Linked DNA regions of Homo sapiens: regions 2 and 3 are each linked to region 1. Evidence: fine-mapped expression QTL. A gene starts in region 1. Each other region holds a variant in brackets. All regions are shown on one strand. Distances are from middle to middle.

Region 1 (9,732 bases):
TGTGGAGTGGGACATGTGAGAGAGTCTAGAAAAAGCTTTTTTGTAACTGACATCTAAGCGTAATGTTAAGATGTCAGAAGGTATTTCAGGCAAAAAGAACTCCCCGTACAAAGGCCTGAAGGTAAGTGAGTTACATTTAGAAACTTAGAAGTTCAGCTTGGCTGCAGCATAGCATTGGGGTAGTGTAGCCCCAAAATGGATACAATTCCCTCTGCTGGGCTTCCCTGTAACAGAGTTGACATGGTGGAGAAATTAAAAAATAACAAAGCTTTAGGCTCTGACCTCTTGCACATTATGCTGCCTGAAAACATTTATGTTCCAGATGCAGAAGGCTAATCAGTCTGGCAAGAATTCTGAGGTTGGAAAAACCTGCTTTGAATCCCAGCTTGAGACCAGTAATACCCACAACAGGTTGTGTAGAGGTTAGGTGAAATAATAAATGTGAAGCATCTTACACACACTAGGTGCTCAAATAATTCTCTCCCTTCAGTTACCTTGCTTCTGAGCCCCCAGCTGGACTCTGAGCTGAGGACACCATGTCACCATCCACCACACATGACCCCATGACTTGGCAGAGGACGATGCTTTTCTTGGCCATCTCTATGTCCATCTCATTCAGTTCTAGTCTCTACCCTCTTCTTTAGAGGAACTGCAGCATTCATAAAACAAGAATTATAGCCACACGCACCTGAGACTTGTTCCATTACACTAATTGTACTTTATATTTGTATATGTACTTGATCTCAATTATTCCTTTTGAGAACATCATAAGGTTGAGTATTGTAATCACTATTTGGCAGATAAAAGCCCTAGGTTCAGAGAGGTACGTGATTTATCTTGACTGAAGCTTTGAATGTAGCTCCTCATTTTCTAAACGAGTTCTGTCAACCCTACAAAGGCTGCCTCCCAGCAAATACTGCAATGGGCATATGTTTTAAGGTATATTTGCACTTTTTTTAAACTTTTAAGTTCAGGGGTACATGTGCAGGTTTGGTACATAGGTAAACTTGTGTTATGGGGGTTTGTACAGATTATTTCATCACCCAGGTATTAAGCCTAGTACCCACATTAGTTATTTTTCCTGATCCTCTCCCTCCTCCCACCCTCCACCCTCCAATAGGCCCCAGTGTGTGTTGTTCCCCTCTATGTGTCCATGTGTTCTCATCATTTAGCTCCCACTTATAAGTGAGAACATGCAATATTTCGTTTTCTGTTCCTGTGTTAGTTTACTTGCAGTTTCTTTTAAAAGTTATTAAGACTCAGAGAAACATAAACTTTTACAACTATATACCTATTCATCAATATACAACTGTATAACTATATACTCTTTCACACATATTTTAAGTTCTCTGTGTAAAACTAAAGTTGGGGGGTGGTAGTGGTGGCAGGATGTTCTCAGAATACTAGGGCCTTCAAAGGACCATCCTCAATACTTTGATGATAGGTATCACTTTCCATTTGCATACTTGCCCAGCTATGCTCATAACAGTAAAAATAAAGCTTCCTACCTTCTTAAGAATAAAAAACTGTCTCCCCTGTGAAAATAACACAAGTGAAAGACTTAATTATTCAGGTGGACTTCAGCTGCTGATTTCAAATGGAATTATTCTCTTATGATCACAGGATGCCTTGTAAGTTACCTGTTTCAAGCCCAGTCTCTGCCTAGGGAACTGTCTCCTATGAAAAGGAGTCCGGGTGGACCATGGTGGCTCATGCCTGTAATACCAGCATCTTGGGAGGCCAAAAAGGGAGGATCGCTGGAGGCCAGGAGTTTGAGACCAGCCTTGACAACAGGACCAGATAATAGACCCCGTCTCTACAAAAAATAAAAAAAAAATTAGCTGGGCATGATGACTCACACATGTGGTCCTAGCTACTCGGGAGGTTGAGGTGGGAAGATCACTTGAGCCCAGGAGTTCCAGGCTGCAGTGAGCTATGGATGTGCCACTGCACTCCAGCCTGGGTGACAGAGCAAGACCTCAACTCAAAAAAAAAATAAATAAAAAAGAAAAGGAGTCCACCTCACTTCTGAACAGTTCAAGTTGAGTCCATAAATGAGCCTATTTCTGTCTTCCAAAGATATCCATATAAGACTTTTCCCAACCACCCCCCGCAACCTTGCTTCCTTTCAGTGTTTCTCCAAAGGTGGTGCCCAGATTACCTGGATCAAAATCACCAGGGTACTGATTAACAGGAGATTCCTGGGTCCCAACGCTGACCTGAATCATCACCAAGAAATGGTGCATTCGCTTTTCATATCACATTACCCAGCAGATTCATACTTCGTGAATTACACACTCTAGATCTCTGTCACACAAAAAAAATGGTCTTAGGCAAAATCTCTCATCTTCTACTTAAAACAACTGGTTTTAACCTAAGGGGCTGATATAAATGCTAAGTCAAGCAGTGATTTGTGTTTAACACTTGACAGTCCCTCTTCCAGGTACTCTATATAGTGGACTTTTATACAATATGATGTACAGTCCTTCAGCCAACCAATAATACACCTAACTACAATCCATTCTACATTTCCGGAACCATGCTGTTCATGAGGATATCACTTCAGATATTTTGTGGAAATTTTGAAATTATGGCATCTACAGAACTCCCTGATATACTAGCTATTGTAAGCCAAGCCAAAAAGCACATGAAGGTAGTTTGGTATAATTCTTTATCTATCTTGATAATTGAAATTGTTTCACTGTAAAACTTTACATAACTGAGCTTTGTTTTAAAGCAAAAAACTTGCAGATGTGAGACAGTACGAGAAAAAAGAATCAGCTGTTACCATCTTAAAACTTAGGATAGCCTAGGTGTGGTGGCTCACAGCTGTAATCCTAGCACTTTGGGAGTACGAGGCAGATTGCCTGAGCTCAGGAGTTCGAGACCAGCCTGGGCAACACCGTGAAACCTCGTCTCTACTAAAATACAAAAAAAAAAAAAATTAGCTGGGCGTGGCGGTGTGCACTTGTAGTCCCAGCTACGGGGGAGGCTGAGGCAGGAGAATTGCTTGAACCCGAGAGGTGGAGGTTGAGGTGAGCCAAGATCGCACCACTGCACTCTACTCCAGCCTGGGTGACAGAGTGAGAGACTCCGTCTCAAAAAAAAAAAAAAAAAAAAAAAAAAAAAAAAAAAAAAAAGAAAAGAAAAAAAACCCCAAAAAACTTAGGATAAAATCTTAAAACGTTTTGTTCGACTTAAATTTAAATTAGCAGTTTAGGATATAGTACACTGATAATGTAATTACATACATTCTGCTATAAAGGCATAGACATCTTTATTGGGAGATATGGGCAGAAAAATTATTTCCTCAGGGTGGGGCATTTGGCTAAACACTTGCCAATATCCTTTACTGTGTAATTTAGGTAACACAGGCAGAAAAGGCGTTTGAAAAGCAGAAATCAAGTGGCAAATATCAGATCTGAGGGACGCAATGAGGGTGGAGTTGAAATCCGTGGTCCTTGGATTTGAAACTTACCAGCCCGTGAACAAGGTTGGTATTGCTTTTGGCATAAGACGACAGCCTTTCTTTTCATTAGCTCAGGAGGAATACTGGCTTTCCAAGTGAGCTCCTCCAATCCAGTGATATTTGCACATCTCACCTGGGCCTTTCGGTTACAAATTCACCACCTTAAGGAGCCGTGTGAAAAAGCAAGAACAATCAATAAGAAGGAAAAAAAAAAACCCTTCAGCTATAAATCAGCCACGTGGAGCTGCTGCAGCAGCAGCGGTAGTCCCACTTCCTGGTTGGCTTCCTGAAAGCCTCTCGACAAGGGGCTCAGGGAAGTGGGTCTAAGGGAGAGGTGCAGACGAGAGCGACTCCAGGTCCAACGGAGGGGGCGGCGGGCCACGGGATCCCGGAGGGCACAGGCGTTAAGGACGGAGTTATTGTCCATAATTACAATAAAAGTTTGGGGATCTGAAAGCTTTAAGGAGCTGAGCTGCAGGGCAAAGGCTAAGAACCGGACTCGGGAAAAGTGCAAGTTAGTTACAAGGTAGCAGGGACTGTGAAGGGGGCTCGCGTGGAGAGCAGGGGACTGCGGATCTGGAAGGGGGCAGGTAGAGAGGAAGGCAGCCTGGCAGAGCGAGGCACACGGGTCAGTCGGAGCTCTGCGGTGGCCGCCAGAGGGGAGGGGGCCACGGGGAGGAGCGGAGGGAAGAGCCCGGGGAAAGGTGTAGCCGAGGGGAGTTCCGGATCTGGAGCTGGAAAGGGCAGGCAGCGGAGAGGGCGGCAGCCGTAGCGGTAGGGGTGGGGGAAAGAGGGGGAGGAGAGCCGGAGGAGGGGGAAGGAGGGAGGGGAGAGCGGTGGCGGCGGCTGCGCCGGGCTGTGAGTCTCTCGCCGCCGGAGGAAGATGAGGCTGAAGATTGGGTTCATCTTACGCAGTTTGCTGGTGGTGGGAAGCTTCCTGGGGCTAGTGGTCCTCTGGTCTTCCCTGACCCCGCGGCCGGACGACCCAAGCCCGCTGAGCAGGATGAGGGTGAGTGACCCGCCCGGCCCCCTCCGGCGGCAGCGACCGGCAACTTGTTTTGTTTGCCCGCGTGTGGAGGGAGCAGGGGCGGCGGGGTCGCGGCACGGCGTGGGCACCGCAGCTCCGCAGGTGGTGCTGGCGCAGCGCGGGCCGAGGGGGTGCCGAGCCCCGCGCACTCCGACCTCCCTGGCCGCCGCCGGCCCGCCCCCTCGCCGCCCCTTCCTCCGCTCTTCCCCGCCCCGGGCTCCGTCGCCGACACCCGCGCTGCCGCGGCAGCGGCTCGGGCGGCCGCTCTCCGCGCCGGGACTGCGGGCGGAGCGGGCGGAGAGCCGGGTCCGGGGGGCTGCGGCCGCCCGGCGTCCCGCTCTGGGGGGCCGGGACCGCAGCGCTCACGGCCCGGGGACGCGGGGTTGGTCCAGGCTGCGGCCTGTGGCGCGTGCAGGCCTGAAGGAGGCGAGATGCCGATGCCGCCACCGCTGGTCCGGTGGACCAGGCCCCTTGGTCCAGCCTCCCCTCCCGCAGCCGCCCGTCTGGGGGTGTTCGCAGCCCCGGGCTCCCCCGGCCCGCCCGCCGGGGAGTGGGAGGGCGATGGCGCCCCGCCTCCGGCTCTTACGGAGAGCGCGCCTCCCCCTCAACTCCGGCGGCGGGGAGCCGGGGTGCGATGCGCGGCCGAGGCCTCGCCCGGACCGCCGGTCCCCCTCGCGTCCCTGGGCGAGGGAGGGGCGGTTGGCCGGAGATGGCGGAGGGGCGTCCCCGCCCCGCCTGCCCGCCGCCCCCAGCCCTCAGCGCCTGGGGAAGCCCCTGCTGTGGCAGTGCTCGGGCGCTATCCGGGGGAAGAGGAGCAGTTCCTCTTCCTTGGCTGCGGCAGGGCTGCTTGGGCCGGAAAACTAACTTGTGTCGGCGCCCGGCCGCCCCGCGCCGGCTGCCGGCTAGCTCAGGCCGACGCCGAGGGGAGCGGCGGCGCGGAGCTCGCGGCGGCTCCGCTGGGACGCATTTGTCTGCCGCCCAGGGCGCGAGTGTTAGCGCTGACATTCCTTGGATTTGGAGGGTTTAGTCAGGCGCCTCGGAACATTAGTTACCCGGAGCCGCGCCGCGCGGGGAAGGGACCGCGGGCACTGCGGCTTCCCTGACCCGGCAGCGGGCGGCGCGCACCGGCCTCGCCCCCGACCCTGACCTGCTTCCCCCCGGATGAACCGTTGCACCACCTGCTTCCTCCTCCCCGCTGGGACAGCCAACTGGGCCGGCTGCCAGTGGGGGTAGGAGAGGGTATGAGGGGCTCACGACCGCCGAGGCGGCGGGGCTGCAGGAGGAGTCGAGTCGCTCTCTCTGTTGTAAAGTGCTTTTTGCAAGTGTGATGAGCATCGCTTCTATGTCATGTTTATTTAACTTTCCTTCTGGAAAGTTAGCATCAAGAAGTTGGGCAAAAAGGCTTGTGGCGTCCTTTCAAGAGTAAGAATCCTAGGAGGAGATCCCATTATCAGCTCTTCGCCTATATCATGAGATTAGATGTAATCTGGAAGTTTTAGTATTTGAAGTCTCTACAGCAGTGGAATCCCTTTGTAATATCTGGGATAGATTCCCATCTAAGTCATCTAAATTGATGGTAATAAAAAGTATCAGTTTTCCTTTTCAGTACATTTGCGGTTTTAAGCTTCTCAGCTCATGGAGTGATGGTGATCTTTTTATAATTTTGCTCTCAATATGACTTATTGACAAAGGATAACTGAATATTGCAATTGAGGATATTTGTTTTAAGTCATCAAATGGCTTTTTACATGTAGCTAGAAATGTTTAACCCCCTATTTTCTGGTAGAGAAACTGACGAAAAACTGACAAAACTAGCTAGGTTCAGAATGTCCCGCCCTTCTGATGATCTTTTAAAGAGGTGGCGGAACATCAGCATCACTTGCCAACTCGTGGAATATTTTATTAGTGCAAACAAAGGATGGGCCATAATGCCCATTTCAGTACTATATGGTGATGATAAAGAAGGTGATGATATCTTGATTTTTTGTTTGTTTCAGTGTACTTGATAAAGTTTCTCAGTGGATCCAGTGTAATTTCTGTCATTTGTCAAAAACAAAAGGTAGATTTTAAAGACTTAACATAATTAACATTAAGAGGAATGCTTAGGTATCAGAAGAGCAAGAAAGACCCTTTTATTGGCTTCCCAGGTAAATAGTAATACAAGCAATTTAAAGTGTAGCTTATAAATAATAAGAGCATAAATAAGGGATTATTGCCTTCCTTTAATAAAGACTAACCTAGGAGCTTTTAAGGTACAGTGCTAGAAGGACAAATCCTGTAGGGAGGATTCTGACTCCTGAGTTTCTCCTCCCCCTTGTGGTTCTTTTACTTCGATGACTATTGCATATATTCCACCCATGGTGAGATCTCTGCTTCTCTTTAATGCTGATCTACACATGGACTTTTTTGGATCCCTTTAAATAGCCTGAACGATCCAGTTTACCAGGTATGGGTTCTGCCTCTACTCCAGCAAGCTTGTACCTGTGGCTCCATTCACCCTGTGCCACTTTTTGTCTTGAACTATGAATATGTCATACACTAAATTCTGTTACAGCCTTGACAACTTGGGATGGTCCTTTCTCATCTGCACTATTTCCTTGTTTTAGGTCTGTCCACCTGTGGAGTCAAGACAAAAGAAACATGTTTCTTATTTCCTTCCCATCTCTGGGCCTCTTGCCCTTTCTCTGAAGTGAATGATGTGAAAAATGACCTTACATTTCCGATCATATTCTGTTGTGTGATTTTAAATATTGATTTATTTGAACATTTTTGAGTGCCAATTATATACCAGGCATGGTACTAGTTGTTAAGGAAATACTCCTTGTCCTTAATCTCATGGATCTTGTAAAAACCACACAGCAATCAAACCTCGATAAATATATAAATAAAAATTGTGCTACTGCTTTCATAGTGAAAACCATAGGGGGCAAGAAAATGGAGGAATTTGGTCATAAAAGCCTTACTTGAAGAAATGACTATTAGCAGTAGCAAATCCACACAGGTCTGAAGCAACTCGATTCTTACCTCCTGTGGGAAAGAATTTATTGGAGGGGCATAAGGCAGAGTGAGAGACCGAGGCAAATTTTTGAGCAGGAGTGAGAGTATTAAAAAGCTTTAGAGCAGGAACGGAAGGAAGTACACTTTGAAGAAGGCCATGTGGGCTACTTGAGAAATCCAAGTACCTCGTCTGACCCTGGACTTGGGGTTTTATACATTGGCATGATTCCAGGGTTTGCGTTTCTTCTCCCGTGATTCTTCCCTTGGGGTGGGCTGTCTGCATGCGCAGTGGCCTGCCAGCAGCGGGGAGGGGCTGCCTGCAGTGTGTTTACTGAAGTTTTACTCATGCTCACTTGAGGCATTTTTCCCTTACAATTTGAGCCTTCCTAGAGGAAGGGCATATACTAGTTAAAAGCTGCCATTTTGCCTATTAGTGCACATGCTGGAGCCCACTTGCCCAACTCCTGAGATCTTAGTGGGAACCTGCTGATAACCAGCTTTAGGTGTTTTCTATCTAATGGGAGACTGCCTTTCCATGGTGTTGGCGCGACCAATTATTATTTCAGAGAGACAGTTTAACAACGGCCTGACCATCACCTGATGGCCGCCTGACATTCCTGGTGGTGGGGGGCCTTTCCTGCCCTGCTCATGTCTGCCTAGCTGCCTACTCTGACTTTTGAGGCGAAATCTGAACATTTCAAGAAAAGTAGTTAATCTGGAAGTGGGTGGCAGCATTCTTGAGAAGGAGCATTTGGGCAAAGGTCCTGAGGCAGGAGGTAGCATGAGTGAAATAGTGAGAAACTAGGAGATAAATATTGTTGGAACGTGGAGAATGACAAGTAGAATGATGCCACACAGGAAAGCATGGGTCTCGTAGTCCATGCTAAGGAGGAGATCTTAAGTGCGGTGAGAAGCCGTTGAAAGATTTTAAGTAGGGAAGAGTGGATTTGTGTTTTGAAAAGATCACTCTGGCTGCCTACAGAAAGTATGTATTTGTCTATAGAACAGGTAGCAGGAGTCCTGGTGGGGGTCATCATTATTCAGGTGGGACATAATCCTTGCTTAGATTGGCAGGGCGGTGGTAGAGATAGAAAAAAATAAATTGATTCAAGAGCTCCTAAAGATGCAAAGGCATCAGGATTTGGCTATTGGATATGGTAGTGAAGGTGTCAGGAGGCCTAGGATGATAGATTATTTGTTTCATTATGGAAAGTTCTCAAAGCAAAATGTATACCTTCTTGTATTGTATTTTATGATTATGGGAAGCTTTTTTTTTTTTAGTCTTTGCCCTCTGGATATTTTAAGGTCAGCATTTATTAAGATTATCTGCTTGGACTTGCAAAGCACAGAAAGTTCCTTTAATTAAATAAATTATGTCCCAGACTAACACCATTTATCCCAGGTTTTAGCCCTGAGTGACTGTCTACAGTTGACCCATAAGCCTCTGAAAATAAAGGTTTTTAAAGGAAATGTTGACAGATCCATTAAAACAGCAGTCCCCCACCTTTTTAGCACCAGGGACTGGTTTTGTCAAAGACAATTATTCCACAGACTGGGGGAGTTGGGTTGGGTGGGGGATGGTTTGGGGATGAAACTGTTCCGCCTCAGATCATTAGGTATTAGATTCTCATAAGGAGTGTGCAACCCGGATCCCTTGCATGCAGTTCACAATAGGGTTTATGCTCCATGACCCAGGGTTGGGGACCCCTGCATTAAAACATTCAGTACTGGTGAGAAGCTGTGTGTAAACTAATGACTCTCTGGATATGCAAATGCAACTTTAGTCAAGTCATTAATGCCACTTAGGTTCAGGGTGTATATAATAGGACTAATTCAGGAACTAGTAGGCCAAGAGGTTTTATGTGATAGGCAAGCTAACAGGTTTGAAAGGAATATAGCTTAAATGAGGATTAGTGGCTGAACTGATTACCCTGGCAGTCAAGTTCCACCTTACCAAAGCCATTTTATCTCAGTGATGATCAGTTGTAACCTGAAAAATTCTGCCCTTGAACATGAGATTGTACTTCAAATGGAAGCTCTGTTTATACTATTAGGGATGGAGCTATCACTTAGTGAAAGTGTAGTGTCTTAAGTGGTCACTGTTCTCTCAGTTTCCCAGGCTATACACCTTAGGATTGGTTTTTGTTTCCTTTGCTGTTTTCAGTGTCCCATCCCCCTTCTCCCCCCACACATAATAATGATTAAAAATATCACATCACCAAGTCTGAGAAGTCTGGGG
Region 2 (8,212 bases), 200 kb after region 1:
AGTGAAACACCTCCTACTCTGGGATAGAACCCTGGGAAGCCTAGGCCAAAAGTGGGGAGAGGGACTAGAATGATCTGGTTGGCTCAGAAATCCTCAAGCATTGATTCAGGACTACTGGCACCCTTTAGCACCCAATGGAAGGAAAAGAAGCGCCTCTCTATAGGAACATTACATCATCCAGTGCTTCAAATTGTTTATATTAAATCAGTTTTTCCAATTAAATGAACTGCAAACAATCAAAATTAATGGATGCAGGAAGAGTAAGCATGAGACAGCCACCAGGAGAAACAATAGACAAAAGAAACAGACTTAATAACAAAGTCTAAAAACTACTATGCTTACTATGTTCATGAAAGAAAAAGTCAAGCATATAAATTTTGTCCAGGAACTAGAAATCATAAAAAAGTGACATTCAAGGTTTTAAAAAGAACCAGATAGGAATTATAAAACTAAAAAATGTAATAACTAAAAGTACAAAGACTACGGGTGAATTTTAGAGCAGGTTAGGGACACCTAAAGAGATAATGAGTGACTGGAAGATAAGTTAAAAGAAACCCTCAATAAATTTTAAAGGATTTAAATCATACAGAGTTCTAAAGTGACAATTTATATGTGTTCGAAATCAATAAGAAAAGGATAATCACATTATTTGCATATGTTTGGAAATAAGAAACCTACTTCTAGGCTGGGTGCCATGGTTCACACCTGTAATGCCAACACTTTGGGAGGCTGGCAGATGGCTTGGGTCCAGGAGTTGGAGACCAGCCCGAGCAACATGGAGAAACCTTGTCTCTATAAAAAACACACAAAAAACAAATTAGCTGAGCATGGTAGTCTGCACTTGTAGTCCCAGCTATTTGGGAGGCTGAGGTGGGAGAATCACCTGAGCCTGGGGAGGTTGACGCTGTCATGAGTAGTGATAGAGCCACTGCACTCTTGCCTGGGCAACAGAGTGAGACTCTATTTCAAAAAAAAAAAAAAGAAAAAAGAAAAAAAAAGAAACATACTTCTAAATCTATGCATCAAAAAAATGATAGGAAAATTAGATGATGTTTTAAATTCAATGGTAATAATACATATCAAGACTTGTGTGATGCAGTTAAAACAATATTGATGGAGAAATCTGTAGCTTTTAATGTACATATTTGTAAAGAAGTTAGTAAAAGAACAGCAAAATAGAAAGTAGAAAGAAATAATAAAGAAAATAGAATAATTGAAATAGAAAAAAATACAATAAAAACTATGTACAAAATTCAGGTCCTCTGAAAAGCCTAATAAAATTGATAGAACACTGGTGAGACTGATTAACAAAAGAGAGAAGGCACTAATAATTGATGATGAAGATAGGGACACTGGGTCAGATCTTGCACACCTTAAAAACATGAGGTTGTTATGAACATATAAATGGTATAAAAATTTAGATGAAAAACAAAAAAATCTGTATCAGACATGATACATAATAGCGAAACATGAAAAGCCTTTCTTTTGAAACTGGAAATGAGACATTTTTGCCTGCTAACACCTCTTTTATAATGTTGTTCTAGAGTCCTGAACCTGTAGTAGCACAAGAAAAAAGGGAATAAAAAATGAAGGAAAACTCAACGATTTGAAAATGGTATGATTGAATGCATTGAAACCCAAACACAAATACATTTATATTTTTATTGGATAAGAAATTTTAGCAGGGTTGCTGGATATAAAAATTAGTTTGGAAAATTAGCTTATTTTATATATATTTAAGCAACAAAAAAGGAAAATGAAATATTAAAAAGATACTATTTACAATAGTGTCAGAAATATCAAATATATATAGAGATATAATAAAAGATCAGTGAAACTTCTGCATAGCAACAAATACAATTATATTAAGAAACATTACAGAAGACCTAAATGAATTGAAAATCATGATTGGAAGGCTCAATGTTGAAGAAGTCGCTCGTCTCTCAGGTTAATGTATGGATTTGATGCAATATCATCCAAAATCCCAAAAGGCCTTTTTTGTTGTTGTTGTTGTTGTCTTATTGTTCATTTGGTTGGTTTTTCTTTTTTCTGGAACTTAAGCTGATTCTAAAATGTATAAGGAAATACAAAGGGTCAAGAATAACCAAGTCTGTGTTTTGACGAAAAAAAAATAAGGTAGAAGATCTATACTTCTAGGTTATCAAAATTTTTCTGAACGACTTTTATAATTAAGACTGTGGAATTGGCAAAGTACAATGGAAAGACTAGGCTTCAGAAACAGACCTACATACATACAACTTGATTTATGACAAAGGTGACACTGTAAAAGAATGGAATATGGATAGATTTTCCAGTGAATGGTACTTGGTCAAATGGGTAGCATATACAAAATAAAATTGTACCTCAACCACTGTGCACAAAAATCAATCATAATCTTAAATGAGAAAGGCAATACAATGAAGCTGTTAGAAGATAATGTAGAAAAATATCTTCATGATTTGGGGATAAGGAACTTACTTAAGTCACAAAAATCATCAGTCAGAAAAGAAAAGATAGATATATTTTTTCCTCATTAAAAGACTTTAAACAAAAGTTGCCACTGCAGAGTCAAAAGGCAAATTATGAAGTAGGCAAAGATGTGTGCAATATGTAAAATTGTGAAAAGGCTGTTATTCAGAAAACATGAATAACTACTACAAATCAACAGAAAAAGACACAATCCCAATAGAAAAATAGGCAAAAGACCTAACTAGGAACTTCCAAACGAGAAATCCAAAAGACCAATTAATATATAATCTCATTAGTAACTAAGAATGTTCAAATTAAAATCACAATTAGATACCATACATACCTACTTGATCTTTTTTAGAAAGTACAATATCAAATGGTAGGCAAAGATACAGAACTCTCATATATTGCTTAAGGAAGTGTAAAAGTTTGGAAATATCTAGTAAAGTTGAATCTACGCCTACCTTAAAACTCAGCAATTCTGTTTACATATGTAAGCAAGGAGCTGGAAGTTCTCACTCCAACTTAACAACATATATATCTTACTGACCTGCAGTCACGTATGTATCAGGATACATGTACAAGAATAAGAATGTTCATGGCAACATTCTTTTAATAGCCCTAAACGGGAAACAATCCATATGTCTATCAACAATAGAATGGATATATTGTAGTTTATTCATACCATAATGAAGAGAAAGAATTAAACTACATAAAAGTAGACCTTTGAAAAACAGAGTAAATGAACCCAAAGAAAACAGAATATAAAGTATATGAGTCCACTTATATAAAGTTCAAAAACAGCAAAACTGAAAAAAAAAGTTGAAGAACTATGTGGCAAAACTGTAATGAAAAACGAGGTAACAAATACCATAAAAGTCAAGATAGCTACTCCTGCTAGCTGGGAGATGGGATTTATGATGAAGAAGTGGCAGGTGATGGCTTTCTGGCATGTTGTCAATCAGGGCCATCTACATAATTTGTGGTGTCCAGAACAAACATCTTTTTTCTCTCCCTCCCTCTCTTTCTCCTCACATGGTGTTTTCTTATTTGCTATTTAATGTGGCACTCCCTTGGGCACAGGTGGAAAACTGACCCAAAGGAGCTAGGGGCCTGACTCCTGGTTCAGAGGAAATGGGGAGGATCCTGCACCTCAGCCAGACACTTCCTGCACCGTACCTCCTGCTCAGCCTCTGCCAGAGCAGAGGGTGGGGTGGGGTGGAGTGGAGAGAGTGAGCAGCCAGAACTCATTCTGGGGAGGAAGGGAGGTGGCAGGAGGCCCATGTTGCCTGAATCAATGCATTGTCCCATTGATACTTCACTGATAAAACACAAATTCAAAGATAAAATTATTGAGAATTACATGATGGTGATTGCAGGGCATTAAATGTCAAGCAGGAAGGAGGAGGAGAGTGGAGCATGTTGGCTTCTGAGCTTGGGGTCCTGTGCCACTGCAAGTCCCTGAAGCTGGCCCTTTCAGCAATGTTCTCTTTCCTGACCTGGGTAGCAGTTATACGGATGTGCATTTTACCATAACTGCTTGTCTCCGTTCATTTGTGCCGCCATAACAAAATAGTTGAGACTCAGTAATTTATAAAAACCAGAAATTTATTTTCTCAAGGTTCTGGAGGCTGAGAAGTTCAAGATCAAGATTTGATCTTGGTGTCTGGTGGAGGCTGCTCTGTGCTTCCAAGATGGTGCCTCTTGCTGCATCCTCACATGGTGGAAGAGATGGAAGGGGTAAACTCGCCCCCTCTATCCCTTTCATAAGGCGCTAATCACATTCATGAGGGTGGCCTCACCACCTCCTAAAAGCCCCACCTCTTAGTACTGTTGCATTGGGGATTGAGTTTCACAATGAATTTGGGAGGGGACACACACAAACACTGAAACCACAGCACTGCTTAAACTGGACATTCATGCTTTATACAATTTTCTGTATGATGGCTGAGTTTAAAACTAGATAAAGGAAAGGTGGTGTAAAACGGAATGAACTTTTGCTGTAAAATATAGAATTATTCACATATAGAGATGTATATACTAGTAAATGCATACTTTTTTCTAGAAGGAAACAATAATCTGTTAACACTGGTTGCTTCAAGGGACAGGGATTTGAGGAGATGAGGTAAAACAGGCTTTTGTTTTTCATATGAACCTTTTTGTATTATTTGAATTTTCTACTGTGGTCATGTTGGGATTATTGGCCAATTTATATGTTTTTGTAAATTAAATAAAATTATTTAGTTGCTTATTTTAAAGTAAAGCCAGAAAAATGCAATCATGTTAAAAGCCTATAGGGAAGACAGGCACGGATACATACTTTTTTAAGAATCATATTTTGAACCATTTTAGAAAGCAAAGAGCATTTTTGTTGATATGAACAACCCCCCTATAATTAAGGTTTCATAGATCTATATTTTTTACCTAGTCTACTCTGAGGTAGATTTACTGTGAAGCTAAAGGATTCAAACTTCAGAGTCCCTCACTTGGATAGACCCTTATGAAGTCCTGTACCTAATTTTAATTTTGCATTCATAATTTTACATACTTCTTTAAAAAGACCTTTCAGATTATATAATCTTGAAGCCCCCCTAAAACCTGATTCCAACCTTGACTGTGAGTTACACTCAAATCAAAGAGTTCTTATACCTGCCCTAAATATGAAGATTTGTAGAAATAAGTAACAAAACATGGTTGTAAAAATGTATCTAAACAAATAGATTCACTCAAGATACACTTTAAATCTGGCAGTGAGAATTAACATGTCCCCTACTCCAGCAATCTTTTCAACTTGCCAGAAATGAATCATTTCCTCCTATGTGCTATGCCTGTACTTTCTCTCTATTGTTATTGAGGTTTGTATTATGTGCTTGTTAAGCTACCTGTCTGCCCTACTAGACAAGAAGCTCCCAAATAGCTAGGACCCTCTCAATTATTTTTGTGCCTCCAGGGCCTAGAAAAAGATTCTAGCATGCAACAAGTGACTGTTTAATAGGATCTTTTTACAACCATTGTATTGTGTGTAAAGGAGCCATAGCTACAGTTCTTTACTTGAGTAAGCTTCATATGAAACTGATAACTATACATATACATACATGCACAGCTTAAGGAGATTCACAAAGTACTTATCAGTAAGCATCTTTCTTTTTCCTACTGAATTTACATGATTTGGTCACATTTTGCAGAAGATATAAGCTTTTTTAAGCACAAGAACCAAACAATATGAATTTCATGAACTATTTTAAAAACACATAAATGTACAAAGAAAAATATGAAAATTCAACATCCCACTGTCATGTTTCAGATATTTTTAATAAATAAAAACTTTAAAATTCAGAAGAAACCATCTTTAAGCCATTCCCAGTGTGAAAATTGATCATACAATCTGGATCATTCTTGTCATACCCAACTAAATCAGAATCGAGGGACCAGGGGAGAAAGCAATCAGGGCACACAGCTCTAGCATTAAGAATTAAGTTTTTTACAACCCAGCTGCTGAAACGGCCTGCAGTAACTCTAAGACCAGTTTTACCGAGTAGTTGCTGAAACAATCTCCTATGACTAAGACTGGTTTTATCTACCACTCTCACTCACCAATCAGAGCTTGCCAGCTTCCCAAAACTTTACTATAGTGCCAATGAACCTTCTTTCAAAACAGTAGCAACATTTCTCTTTCTAATAAAACTCTCGACCTTCTCTTTGTTCTTCTGACATACTAAAGACCACTCAGTCTGTGTGTATGTCCTGAACTGCAATTCTTGCTTCCCCAAAAAACCATTAAATTTAGAAATTCATCTCTTTATATTTTATGTTTACTCTGACAC[C/A]ATATACAAATTCCTTGGCCTCCTTCGTTGGAGATGAGCATCACCCTGAAGTTGGGATGTATCATCCCATCCATATATTCTCATTTTTACCACTTAAGAAAATGTATCCATAAATATATAACATGTATCCATAAATATATAATTATTCTGTGTTGTAATTTTTTTTTTTTTTTGAGACAGGGTCTCGCTCTGTTGCTCAGGCTGGAGTGCAGTGGTGCAATCTCAGGTCACTGCAACCTCTGCCTCCTGGGTTCAAGCAATTCTCCTCCCTCAGCCTCCCAAGTAGCTGGAACCCCAGGCTTGTGTCACCATGCCTGCCTAATTTTTGTATTTTTAATAGAGACGGAGTTTCACCATGTTGGCCAGGCTGGTCTCGAACTCCTGACTTCAGATGATCCACCCTCCTCGGCCTCCCAAAGTGCTGGGATTACAGGCGTGAGCCACCACGCCCTACTGTGTTGTAATACTTTAAGCCAGTGTTATCTAATGCAACAGGTACAATTTATTGTAATATTTTGTTTAACCCATTACATCCAAAACATTTAAACATATATAAAAATTTTTAATGTGCACTTCAATATTCTTTTTGAAAATTTCTTGTAGTAAGTCCAGAAATAAAAAAAAAGTCCAGCTGATATATACTTACAGCACATCTCAATTCATATGCTAAAGTTAGAGTTCATAAAATTTAAGTTGGAAAAACAGATTCATATATCTGAGTTGTTGCAAACACACTTAAAAGTATTCCAACAATTGAATCGAGCATCAGGTTTTTGGTTTTTGTTTAATTCAAATTCAATTAACGATTCAGTTTTTCCGTCTCAACCACATTTCAAGTGCTGAGTAGCCACATATGGCTAGAGGACAGCCTACTGGACAGCACAGCTTAAGGAGGTACACAATGTACTTATCAGTCATCATCTTTCTTTTTCCTACTGAATTTACGTAATATTTAAATTGTTTTTCTTTGTCATATCCTAGAACTCAAACGCACAGATACAATGGATACCTTTGATTTTCTGCGTCGATGGCATTTTGCATTTAAAAAGATCATCTGGGTGGGGTGGCGCGCGTCTGTAATCCCAGCTACTCGGGAGGCTGAGGCAGGAGAATCGCTTGAACTCGAGAGGCGGAGGTTGCAGGATCGCGCCACTGCACTGCACTCCATCCTGGGCGACAGAGCAAACTGTCTCAAAAGAAAAAAAAATCATTTATCACTAAATTTACTCACCAAAAGAACTTGCAAAAAAAAAACCCAAAACCCTACTGCCTAAAATATATTTTAAAACGTATTTGTGTTTAAGCAGCATATATCTTTTGATAAATAATGACGCATGGTAGCTAACTAGTAAAGATGCAGCTTTCATATTAGCCACGCCCATCCCTCTCTCCGCCCTCCACAAGCACGTCCCCGCAAGCGCGCAGGAACATACACGCGTACGCGCGCACACACACGTACACACGCGCGCGCCCGCGAACACATACATACAAGCAGGCGCGCCCAAACGCCGGCAGCACACAGGCGCGCACGCGCTTTTCAGGACTCAGGAAATGCGCTTTCTGCTCCCCGCGCCCGGTAGAGCTAATGCAGGGAAGTTTCTGGGAACATTCGACCAGCGTTTGTATTGGTGAGGTTCCAAGTTTCCTTTAAAATGATATGACTCCGCCCTTCTCCAAAACCGTTTGAGGAGAAATGGAAAAGGTTGGGCGTGGAGGTGAAAAGGAGCCCTGTTGTCAACTGGTCCGTACTCCACCTCAGGAGGCGGCCAACTTGGTGCGCCCAAGAATAAAAACATTTCCCTTGTAAGAACATGCAAGTGTTTAGAAACGCCCCCCCACCCCCCCGCAAGGCGTTTGTGAGGGGGACCTGTCACAGTTGAGAAGTCAGGATGGGCGTTTTCCTCCCAGGAGGTGCCCTA
Region 3 (11,425 bases), 25 kb before region 1:
GGCAGGAGAATCACTTGAACCCAGGAGGTGGAGGTTGCAGTGAGCCAGGATCGTGCCATTGCACTCCAGCCTGGGCAACAAGAGTGAAACTCCGTCTCTAAATAAATAAATAAATAAATAAACTAATATGTTTCCTGTTCATTTAGTATAAATAAATGCAGAAGGACGCACAATAGGCTGCCTGACATTCTTTCAGCCAGTGTGTATTGTAATATGCAACATCTGTCCTACTTGAGCAGGCACGATTTTGTAGTATTCAAATTAATTGACACAATTTGGGATAGCTTTCTCATAGCAACTACTAGTGGTTCTTTCGATAAAGCAAAGCAGAATTGAGACAGAGAACCTGTCTTTATTTCACTCTTGATTATGACGTCTAAAAATCAGATAGATGCTTGCATACTTTTGCACATGGCATTGTGACAGGACACACTAGGTTGTGACACAGTGACAAACCCCAAAATCTCAGCAGCCCAAAACACAAATTTTAACTATTTCTTGCTATGCTGTATTTCTTTTGCAAGTCGGAAGCAGGACTTTGCCTTTGGTAATTGTTCAGGGATCTTGGCTGGCCAAGCAACTGCCATCTTAAATGTTATTCATCACAAAGCCAGAGGGAAAAACAGATGCAGTGAAGCAGATGCTGTCTCTTAAAGCTTTCACTGTCTCTAGACAGAGAAATTAATTGCCACACCTAATTCCAAGTGCACAGCAAAGTACAATCCTCCCATGTGTTGAGAAAGAGAGACAGTCTGGGATTTGTAAACCACCATATGATGACCAGAGGAGCACAAATTGTATTCTTTCCTCCCAAATTACTATCAGAATTAGAATGCTAATTGGATTCTTCCCTCCCAAAGTAATACTACTTTAGGGTCTTCTGAATCTTACTTTGACAATTATTCTAATATGACTATTGGTGCAATTTTAATAGTGCATTAAATTTAGGAAGTTCTTATATTATCTGTCAGTTGCCATCATAAATCTGGAGTGTATGTATTCTCTAATTAGATATTTCACTTTTTTAATGTCAAAGAAGTAAATCATTTTATCCTTTTGGAATAGAGTAATATTGATGTAAAGTACTGACTTAGGTCTCTGAGAGGTATAAATAAATCTGGAATGATGTGGGGGCATTTATGGTTTTTTAATAAATTAGGATTTAGGAATTTATCAACTGTGGGTGGTTTTGGTTGGCCTGAATGGTGACACTGGCAGAATATTTTTGTGAACTGTTCTGCTTTAGTGTTGGATATGGTACTACTGGAGTCCTTATAAAGTGAAACACTGTCTGGAACTCAGTTTGAAAGAAGTATCTGGCTAATAGTCTGTTTGGGCATGTCTTTATTTTATAAAAATTCTGTTGCAAATAAAATTGTATTTTTTTAATACTGTTCACCTCTAAAGAGTGTGGCTTTGATCTTCCTTTCCTGAATTCCTACAGGCTTTGTGGCTAGTGCCTGTTTTGTTTGTTGATGCTCTATTGCTCACACATTGGATAGAAGTGAATATTTTTCTCTTATTCTTTGTTTAATACAGAAGGCTGCACTGCGCACTCTCATCTGTTACTTGAATGCATCTCAAACAGTCTTTCAGAACTCCCACATGAGGATGACAATGAAAGTAGTCAGTAATTGTTGATGAAAGCTTTGTAACTTCTGCATCATGTAACAATATTGAATTGTTAAGAACAAAAGCTAGTCCCTTGACCTCCTTTGCATTCTGAGACGGTTTACAGGAAATTCAGGTATGGCCAAGGTTTTGTTATTCTTCCAACTTAGCAAATGCAATATAAGACAGAACTTGATAAAAAATTAACAAGATAATCTGACAAACTGAATATGTATATGACCAGTAAATATTCTCTCTTACTGATAGGTTTGGTGTTATGTCCCTGAGATATTCTAGAACTGAACTTGTTGAAGAAGATTTACTCATCTTTGCATTTATTATTGCAGTAAAGTCTCCATAAATTATCCATTGTTTATTATAAAATGTTTATTTTTTGGAAGGCCTGAGTTATAAACACTTATTTCTTGGGAGCATAAACTGAATCTAATGGTTTGTTCAGATTATTTATTACCTAGCCCATCCATTTTGATACAACTCACAAAAATACTACAGTGCAAAAAAAGAGAACAATAATTGAGAAAATTCAGGATATAAGGAAAACATTAATGAGAAAAATGCAGCTATGACAGCCATTAAAACTGAGAATCAAAAATTGATACTGCAGCCACATCTCTGATGCTTTGCATTACTAAGATTGCACCAAAACTTCAAAAATCACGAAGCTTATTAAATCACATTGCTCTTCCTTTAATTTTAACAAGAATTAAAAATTCTTATTAATAATATATTTAAGAGCAAACATGTTTTTGTTCTTGAATAAATAATGTAAAATAATTATTATATCTTTATTATAGTCTTTTAAATATTTTAATTATGAGTAATATGGTATCAAGGTAGTACCTGTGTATAATAAATACCTCTGGAGGCTACTGATAGCAGAGAGCACAACTCTAGGGAAAGCCTGACTATTAACTTTTGTTCTAAATAGTGAGGGTAGGGGCATGAATAGATTTATATTTTGGTGACTGTGAGGAAGATGAATCCAAGGGGTAAGACCAGTTAGACAGTGACAGTAATACCCCAGATTAGAAATAATAAGGACATGGGGCAAAGAACAAATACAAAAGGAAAGTGGGGGCAAGTTCAAGAAATATTTAAGGGGGAAATCAATGATTTAATAGATATAACAATTGTCTTCATTTTGCAAATTGTATCCAGGCCAACTTCCCAACGTGTAGACTCCATACACATTTCTAAAATATTTTGTCATGAGATACATCACACATGCAAAGGGTTTAGAGTATATATATGCACAACTTAAAGAATAACAATAACACGAACAACCTTGCTTTTCTACCTTGCTTCAACTTAAGACAGGGAATATTATGAGAAACTTAGAAGCCCCTGGCGGCCCCTCACCAGTCAGAGCTGCCTTTCTTCTTCTAGAGCTAACCACTATGCTGAAACTTGTATTAAGCATTCTTTTGCTTTCCTTAGGATTTTACCATTTGTATTATATATAAAAAAGGTATCTCTAAACAACATATCGCTTAATTTTGCCTGCTTTTATGTATCTATTAATATACAAAATTGATATACAAATACAACCATGTTTTGATATACCAATTAATGATATACCAGCACAACTATATTTTGTGTATTACTGTGATACATTTCTTTTGTTTTGCCTTAGGTTTGTGAGCCATCTGTGTTGACATATGTGATTGTAGTGGAATAATATTTGTTACTTAATACCTTCCAGTGTATGATTATACAACAGATTATATATCCATCCTCCTGTTGATGAGTGCTTCTAACTTTCTGCTATTAAGCATAACACCCTATCTACCAGTTAAGACTGGTTGTAACAAAATAAAGAAGAATGCTGCCACATGCTGTGGTGCATGCCTGTAGTCCCAGCTACTGGGAGGCTGAGGCAGGAAGATCTCTTAAGCCCAGGAGTTCTGCACTGTAGTGCGCTATGCCAATCAGGTGTTTGCACCAAGTTCAGCATCAGTATGGTGACCTCCAGGGAGTGGAGGACCACCAGGTTGCCTAAGGCGGAGTGAACCAGCCCAGGTCGGAAACAGAGCACGTCAAAACTTCCGTGCTGATCCGTACTGGGATCACGCCTGTGAACAGCCACTGCACTCCAGCCTGGGTGATATGGTTTGGCTGTGTCCCCACCCAAATCTCATTTTAAATTGTGGTTCCCACAATCCCCATGTGTCATGGAGGGACCCCATGGGAGGTAACTGAATCACGGTGGAGGTTACCTTCATGCTGTTCTCATGATAGTGAGTTCTCACCAGATCTGATGGTTTTATAAGAAGCTTTCTCCTTATTTGCTCAGCACTTCTCCTTGCTGCTGCAATGTGAAGAAGGCTGTGTTTGCTTCCCCTTCTGCCATGATTGTAAGTTTCCTGAGGCCTCCCTAACCATGCTGAACTCTGAGTCAATTAAACCTCTTTCCTTTAAAATTACCCAGTCCCACGTATGTCTTTACTAGCAGCGTGAGAACAGACTAATTCACTGGACAATATAGTGAGCCTTGTCTCTAAAAAAAATTCTTGGGAAGCTGAGGCAGGCAGATCACTTGAGGCCAGGGCTTTGAGATCAGCCTGGCCAACATGGCAAAATCCTGTCTCTACTGAAAATACAAAAATTAGCCAGGTGTGTTGGCACGGGTTTGTAATCCCAGCTACTCAGGAGGCTGAGATATGAGAATCACTTGAACCTGGGAGGTATAGGTTGTAGTGAGCTGAGATCATGCCACTGCACTCCAGCCTGGGTGACAGAGCAAGACTCTGTCTTAAAAAAAAAAAAAAAAAAAAAAAAGCCCTATTAACATTCTTCAACATGTCTCCTATTCAATTTGTGCAAGATACAGTACACCTAAATGTGAAATTATTGTGTCACGGGTTATGCATATATACTACTTTACTAGGCAATGCAAAATTTCTCTACAAAGGGAATGTACTAGCTTCCACCTCTGTCAGTAATGACAGTTCCCCTTGCTTAATATCCTCAATAACACTTAGTGTTATAAGAGTTTTCTAGGCTGGGCGCGGTGGCTCACGTCTGTAATCTCAGCACTTTGGGAGGCCAAGATGGGTGGACTGCCTGAGGTTGGGAGTTCAAGACCAGCCTGGCCAACATCGTGAAACCCCGTCTCTACTAAAAATACAAAAATTAGCTGGGCATGGTGGCGGGCGCCTGTAATCCCAATTACTCGGGAGGCTGAGGCAGGAGAATTGCTTGAACCTGGGAGGCAGAGGTTGCAGTAAGCCGAAGTCACGCCACTGCACTCCAGCCTGGGAGACAGAGCGAGAATCTGTCTCAAAAAAAAGACTTTTCCTTGTTTTTTGTTGACATAATTATTATATCATTGTCTTTTATTTGCATCTCGTTGATTACTGTGTGGCTCAGCACTTTTTCCAAGGTTTATGGCCATTTGTATTACTTCTCCGAAATGTCTTTTCATATCTTTTGTCCATTTTTTTTTTTACTGGGTTACATGTATTTGTGAGAATTCTTTCTATTCTAGATAGTAATCCATTGTCAGTTATATGCATTACAAATGTCTATTTCTAGTTTATCTTTTCACATTCATTAAGCTGTATTTTGTTTACTTCATAACGTAATCAAATTTTCTAATATTTTTCTTTTCATCCGTTTCACACAAGAAATAACCCAAATCAACTCCTTCAGTTTTACTTGATGATATTTCTATTTGTTCATTCACATATAAATATTAATGTATGTATAATATGGAAAATAGCCTTTACATGTTAAGAGGGAAAAAAATGACATACTATCTTACCCTTCACAATAACCATGCTATTATACTGACCACTCATTACATAATTTACCAGAAAATTATGCAGAAGTAGCATAAGTCTTTCCAACATTAATGCAAAGACATTATCACTGATTTTGATTTTGAGATGTGGTCTCAGGTAAAGTGATAATTGTATTAAAACTAATCTTTTTTTCAAATGCATTCCAAGATCTCAATTTTCTCCCTCAAATATTACCATAAAAACTGATGTCTTAGCCCACACAATCCTTTCTATCAAATTCCTCACAACCAGGCTTTGGATAGAGGGAATTTCTAAGCCCTGCTGTGGCCGTCTCCACCTGCTCTTCCACGCCATTCCTCCTTCTTCCATGCGCACACTTATATCTCTAAGAACCTATCTCACGAATCAATATTCTACCTCTGTTAGCTCAACTCTCCGAGTCATTCTAGTTGAGGAAAAAAGAGTGGGAAAGTAAAATTACCACTGTGGTCAAGATTAAGACAACTTAAACCAGAAGCTGAATTCCAACCTCTGTGAAGCATGAAGAACACCGAGAAACACAGGCTGCTAGGAATTACTGCCTTGACTCTACCTTGAGATTTCAGCCTTTCCAGTTCCCTTATATCTAGTAAAGCATCATTAATTTGGGGCTTCACTAATTCAAAAATTGTTAAGAGTTCACACAGGTACTCTGTTGAAGTTTAATTTTACACTAAGAATAA[T/C]GACAGATTGCAAACAATACTAGTAGCATTAGGAGGATATTCACTATAAAAAACCTTATCTTCACAATACATATAAAGAGGATAGTCACAAAAAATGTATCTTCATAATATATAAGGGGGATAGTCACAAAAAAAGATCTTCAAGTACTGCAAAAGAACTTGTTTGTTTACAATATTATGCTTAAAATATATGTTACAGTCCCTCTCAGGAAATTCTAAGCAGTCATTACATTATTACACATTGCTAGAAGGAAATGATAGTTTTCAGACTAATTTGAAGTAGCTTTTCTCCCAAAGATTTCCAAAATATTTTTTAATAAACACAAACACATTGCAATACTGTTTAGTGCATTTAATAAAATGGAAAATAGTACACTAGTACTGTGATTATACTTTAGTTTCAAGAGATAATTGTTAATATACATGTATATATTTTAGATAGGGTCTCACTCTGTTGCTCAGGCTGGATTGAGATGGTATGATTTTGACTCACTGCAGCCTGGCCTCCCAGGCTCAATTGATCCTCCCACCTCAGCTTCCCAAGTAGCTGGGACTACAGGCACACACGACCATGCCTGGCTAATTTTTGTATTTTTTGTAGAGACAGGGTTTTGTCATGTTGCCCAGGTTGGCCTCAAACTCCTGAGTTAAAGCAATCCAACCGCCTTGGCCTCCCAAACTGATTATTAATTTTAAAATGTCCGTTGGTAACCACTCTTAACATATTTTACCCGTAGAGAATTTTTCTGAAGAAAAATAATTAACATAGAAACAGAAATGTCAAAATTTGTCTAATTATCTAATTTACTCATTACTGACCCATACTGGTTTTATTGATTTTATTTATATGCTATGTGTTTTAATTATCTATTGTATAATAAATTACCCCAAAACTTAGCAGCTTAAAACAACAAACATGTATTATCTTACATGGTTTCTGAGAGTTAGTTCTCTGGGGGTGGCTAAGCTGGGTGGCGCTGGCTTGGCTGTCATTGCAGCTGTTGTCTCGACTGAAGGCTGAGGGAGGATCCACTTCCAGGCTTTCTCCATGGTTGTTGGCAGGCCTCAGTTACTTGCCTGAGTTCTCAGGCTGGAGTCCTCAGTTCCTTAGCAAATGAGACTCCAGAGGCTGTTTGAGTGTCCTCTCATATGACAGTTTGCTTCCCCACAGCAAATGATCCAAGAGAGAAAGAGTGTGACTGCCTACGATGGAAGCCATGGTCTTGATGACCTAACAACATACCATATGACATATCATCACTTCTGCTCAGTTCTACTGCTCGCATAGACCAACCCTGGCACAAAGTGGGAAGGGACTTCACAAGCATGTGGATACCAAGACACAGGGTGTGAATACCAGGAGGCGGAGATCACTGGGATCCATTTTGGGGCTTTGCTAACACACTATGATTTTTTAAAAGAAGAATACAAAAAAAAGGGAAGAAAACACAATATGGGGGAAGGAAATGTTCACTCAGAAGGTCCAGAAACACATTCAAATATATATAAAAATACTGTATACTAAAGAATGGTCTCTATATATTTGAGTATGTTTCTGGGCTTTATTTTTATTTTATTTATTTATTTATTTATTTTTGAGACGGAGTCTCACTCTGTCGCCCAGGCTGGAGTGCAATGGCACGATCTCGGCTCACTGCAACCTCCGCCTCTGGGTTCAAGCAATTCCCCTGCCTCAGCCTCCCGAGCAGCTGGGATTACAGGCGAACACAACCACACCTGGCTAATTTTTTGTATTTTAGTAGAGAGGGGTTTCACCGTGTTGCCCAGGCTGGTCTTGAACTCCTGAGCTCAGGCAATCCACCCACCTTGGACTCCCAAAATGCTAGGATTACAGGCGTGAGCCACTGTGCCCAGGCTTTATTTTTATTTTTTGAGATAGGGTCTCACTCTATCACACAGGCTGGAGTGCAATGGTGCAGTCACAGATCACTATAGCCTTGACCTCCCATGCTCAAGTAACCCTCCCACCTCAGCCTCCTGAGTAGCTGGCACTACAGACAATGTGCCACCTCACCTGGTGAATTTTTTGAGACAGTCTCCCTCTGTCACCTAGGCTGGAGTGCAATGGTGCGATCTCGGCTCACTGCAACCTCCACCTCCCTAATTCAAGCAATTCTCTTGCCTCAGCCTCCCAAGTACCTGGGACTACAGGCGTGCACCACCGCGCCCAGCTAATTTTTGTGTTTTTAGTAGAGATGGGATTTCACCATGTTGGCCAGGCTGGTCTCAAACTCCTGACCTTGTGATTCACCCCCTTGGCCTTACAGGCGTGAGCCACTGCACCGGGCCATCTGGTGAATTTTTTAAATCTTTTGTAGAGACAAGGTCTCTCTATGTTGCCCAGGCTGGCCTTGAGCAATCCATGTGCTCAGGTGATCAAGTGATCTCACTATGTTGCCCAACTCCTGGTCTCAAGTGATCTGCCTTGGTCTCAAAGTGCTGGGATTACAGGTATAAGCCACCATGCCCAACTCATTTCTGGGCTATTTCAGTCCATTGATCTGGCTATTACAGCATCACCATTATACTGGTTTTGATTATTATATTATTAAAACGTAGTATCTGGTAGAAGAAAAAGAGAAGAAAATTTTAATTTTTAACAATAACAAAAGTGTAATTTAAAAAAAAAACTTTGCAACAGCTTTTTTTGTTTGTTTGTTTGAGATGGAGTCTTGCTCTGTTGCCCAGGCTGGAGTGCAGTGGTGTGATCTCGGCTCACTGCAACCCCTACCTCCCAGGTTCAAGCGATTCTCCTGCCTCAGCCTCCCAAGTAGCTGGGATACAGGCATGCACCACCATGCCTGGCTAATTTTTGTATTTTTAGTAGAGATGGGGTTTTACCATGTTGCCAGGCTGGTCTCGAACTCCTGACCTCAAGTGATCCGCCTGCCTCGGCCTCCCAAAGTGCTGGGGTTACAGGCATGAGCCACTGCACCCGGCCTTTATAACAGTTTTATGCTCAAATAATCAATTCTGTTCTCCTCTTTTTGCCAAATTCATTAATTTCAAAAAAGTGGTTATCAACAATTTCTGAAAAAAATCATTTATTAAATTTGGAAATGGAATGCAGGATAATAATGCTCAATAATCAAGGGGAAAATGTTGTGAATGGAATAAATGAACTATTGGATCCCAGGGGCCAGTCGAGAAATATGTCAGGGGAAATGTGATACAGATATACAGAATTTGCTTGAAGAAAAAAATGGATGGTAGCGAGGTACTCAACCACGTTGGATCCCTGATATATTGGTTTGGTAACTTTTTGTTTATGTCTGGCACTTCTATCATAGGGTATTACTATTACCATATTCACCTCCACAGGGAGTTATATGGAATTAGTGGCAAACTATAAAGCGAAGATATCTGCTTTCTCATTCTCCTACCCACCATCTTCCTTTACCAACTGTATCATTTATCACGTATTAACTGCAATGATAAAAACTAAAGCATCTGGGTATAATGCAAAATAGGTTAATTTCTTGCTCAAGTCACAGTCCAATGCAAGTTTAGTGGGAGGAAGAGAGGTAAAACTATTCTGCACACGCCCTCAGCATGCCTTTCCCATCCCCCTAGACCTCAGCCTTTCCCTGAATTCTGTGCATAGTATGGGCAGATAAGACAGAACTTGGCTGGGCATGGTGACTCATGCCTGTAATCCCAGCACTTTGGGAGGCCAAGGCGGGTGGATCACCTGAGGTCAGGACCAGCCTGGCCAACATGGTGAGACCCTATCTGTACTAAAAATATAAAAACTAGCTGGGCGTGGTGATGGGCGCCTGTAATCCCAGCTACTTGGGAGGCTGAGGCAGGAGAATTGCTTGAACCCAGGAGATGGAGGTTGCAGTGAGCCGACACGGTGCCACTGCCCGGCAGCCTCGGTGACAGAGTGAGACTCCATCTCAAAAAAAAAAAAAAAAAAAATGACAGAACTTTGTGGACTATGCAAGATGAATTTTAGGGACCAGGCCTGCAAGTGTTGCACATCATTTCCATTAGTTAGAACTCAGTGACGGGACCCCACCAAGGGCATTTGGGAAATGTACTAAAGCTGTGTGTCCAGAAAAAAAAAAAGATGGGAGTTTGGTGAACATGCAGTATCTCTATATATTGCCCCATTAGTCTACCTGGAGGATGAGTGTGGGCTCTGATGAGAATGTTAAATCCCAATAACTAGTCCTTCAATGTATACTTTTCTTGTATTTTATGCTTTGAAACAGTTATCCTTCAAATTTATAGAAATAAGAGACTTCACTGAATCTTAAAGCTACCTAATAAGCTCTGAGCTTGGTGGTAGACAATAGGCTCAGAATGAAGGGAAAGGACTCGTTTGGAGCTTCTGTGAGTTATTGAGAGAGGTTGTGCTATTATTAAAATCACTTGTGCTCACATTCTGAGTGTTCAATAAATGCAAGTTTATGGCAACTCTAAATGGCAAAGTTCCTCTTTTGATGTTCTGATCCAAAAGTATGAGAATGTATATTTAAAATGATGTAGAGTTTTTTTTTAATTGTCTACTTGCCCTAGGCAGGTGTGAATTCTTATTCATAGCACCTTCTCTGTGCAATTGACATTTTTAAAACCTATCAAGTAAATCTTCACTTTAAAATTTACATATGTAATTCTATGAATTCAACAGTCACTTGAGACTATTTGAAGAAAAGAGAAATGTAATGAAAAATTCTGATTTCTAATGCTGAGATTTAAAAATTAAAGAAGCAAAATAAGTCTCAAGCCTCAAAACCAACAGATTAGAACTGCTATTTTCCCTAACCCTTGATTGATTTACTTTGGTTATTAAGCATTAAATGACTTATGAAATCAGACATCACTTATTTCTTTGCAATCATTTATCTAATTGACCTATTTCTAGGCAAGAGACATAATTCTAGTCACTTGGTAGGCTTTATATGGGCAATTGGTGGCTGAAATTTTATTTCTGGCTCAATTAAGGAATTTAAATACACTATTTCCTCTTGATAACGTATCTAATTTAGGATCTTCTCAATCATTAGGTTATGTCATAGGATTTTATTTAGATTGCATTAACTATTAACCTTCTGTTTTCCCAAACTTGGTTAAAAATAATTCTGATTTGTTGTACAATTCTACCTATATTTCACTTTGCCTTATCTCTGTGCTCCCAAATTGCTGCTTCCCAAATTTTCCTTCTTTTATTATACATGTACCATAAAAAGCTTCAGAGGTAGCTATGTTAATCCTTCCTTCCTCCCTTCCTTCCTTCCTTCCTTTCCTTCCTTCCATCTTTTTTTTTTTAAACAGAAAAATTCACCACAGTGAATCATGGCA

The links. PIP is the estimated chance that this variant, and not a neighbour inherited with it, causes the effect.
Region 2: its variant is fine-mapped to the expression of GALNT7-DT in whole blood (INTERVAL, PIP 0.96).
Region 3: its variant is fine-mapped to the expression of GALNT7-DT in whole blood (TOPMed, PIP above 0.99).

Annotation. Positions count from the first base shown.
Region 1 is chr4:173,164,484-173,174,215 of GRCh38, forward strand. It overlaps GALNT7-DT (GALNT7 divergent transcript), which reads right to left and starts at 5,169. Exons shown (of 7, transcript NR_134242.1): 1 at 4,381-5,169; 2 at 3,479-3,630; 3 at 2,162-2,307; 4 at 1,641-1,816; 5 at 495-649. It overlaps GALNT7 (polypeptide N-acetylgalactosaminyltransferase 7), which reads left to right and starts at 4,328. Exons shown (of 12, transcript NM_017423.3): 1 at 4,328-4,478. The coding sequence starts at 4,353. RefSeq lists enhancers at 1,439-1,518, 3,597-3,696 and silencers at 4,007-4,056, 4,127-4,246, 4,477-5,706.
Region 2 is chr4:173,362,132-173,370,343 of GRCh38, forward strand. SAP30-DT (SAP30 divergent transcript) reads right to left here. Exons shown (of 4, transcript NR_183973.1): 1 at 8,161-8,212; 2 at 7,303-7,479. Among named protein-coding and RNA genes, the nearest start is that of SAP30-DT, 4.5 kb to the right of the region's middle. RefSeq lists enhancers at 5,509-5,578, 8,044-8,212. The variant C/A (reference allele first, on the strand shown) is at 6,294.
Region 3 is chr4:173,138,184-173,149,608 of GRCh38, forward strand. All of the region lies in intron 6 of GALNT7-DT (GALNT7 divergent transcript), which reads right to left. It also overlaps the pseudogene RN7SL253P. Among named protein-coding and RNA genes, the nearest start is that of GALNT7, 25 kb to the right of the region's middle. The variant T/C (reference allele first, on the strand shown) is at 6,098.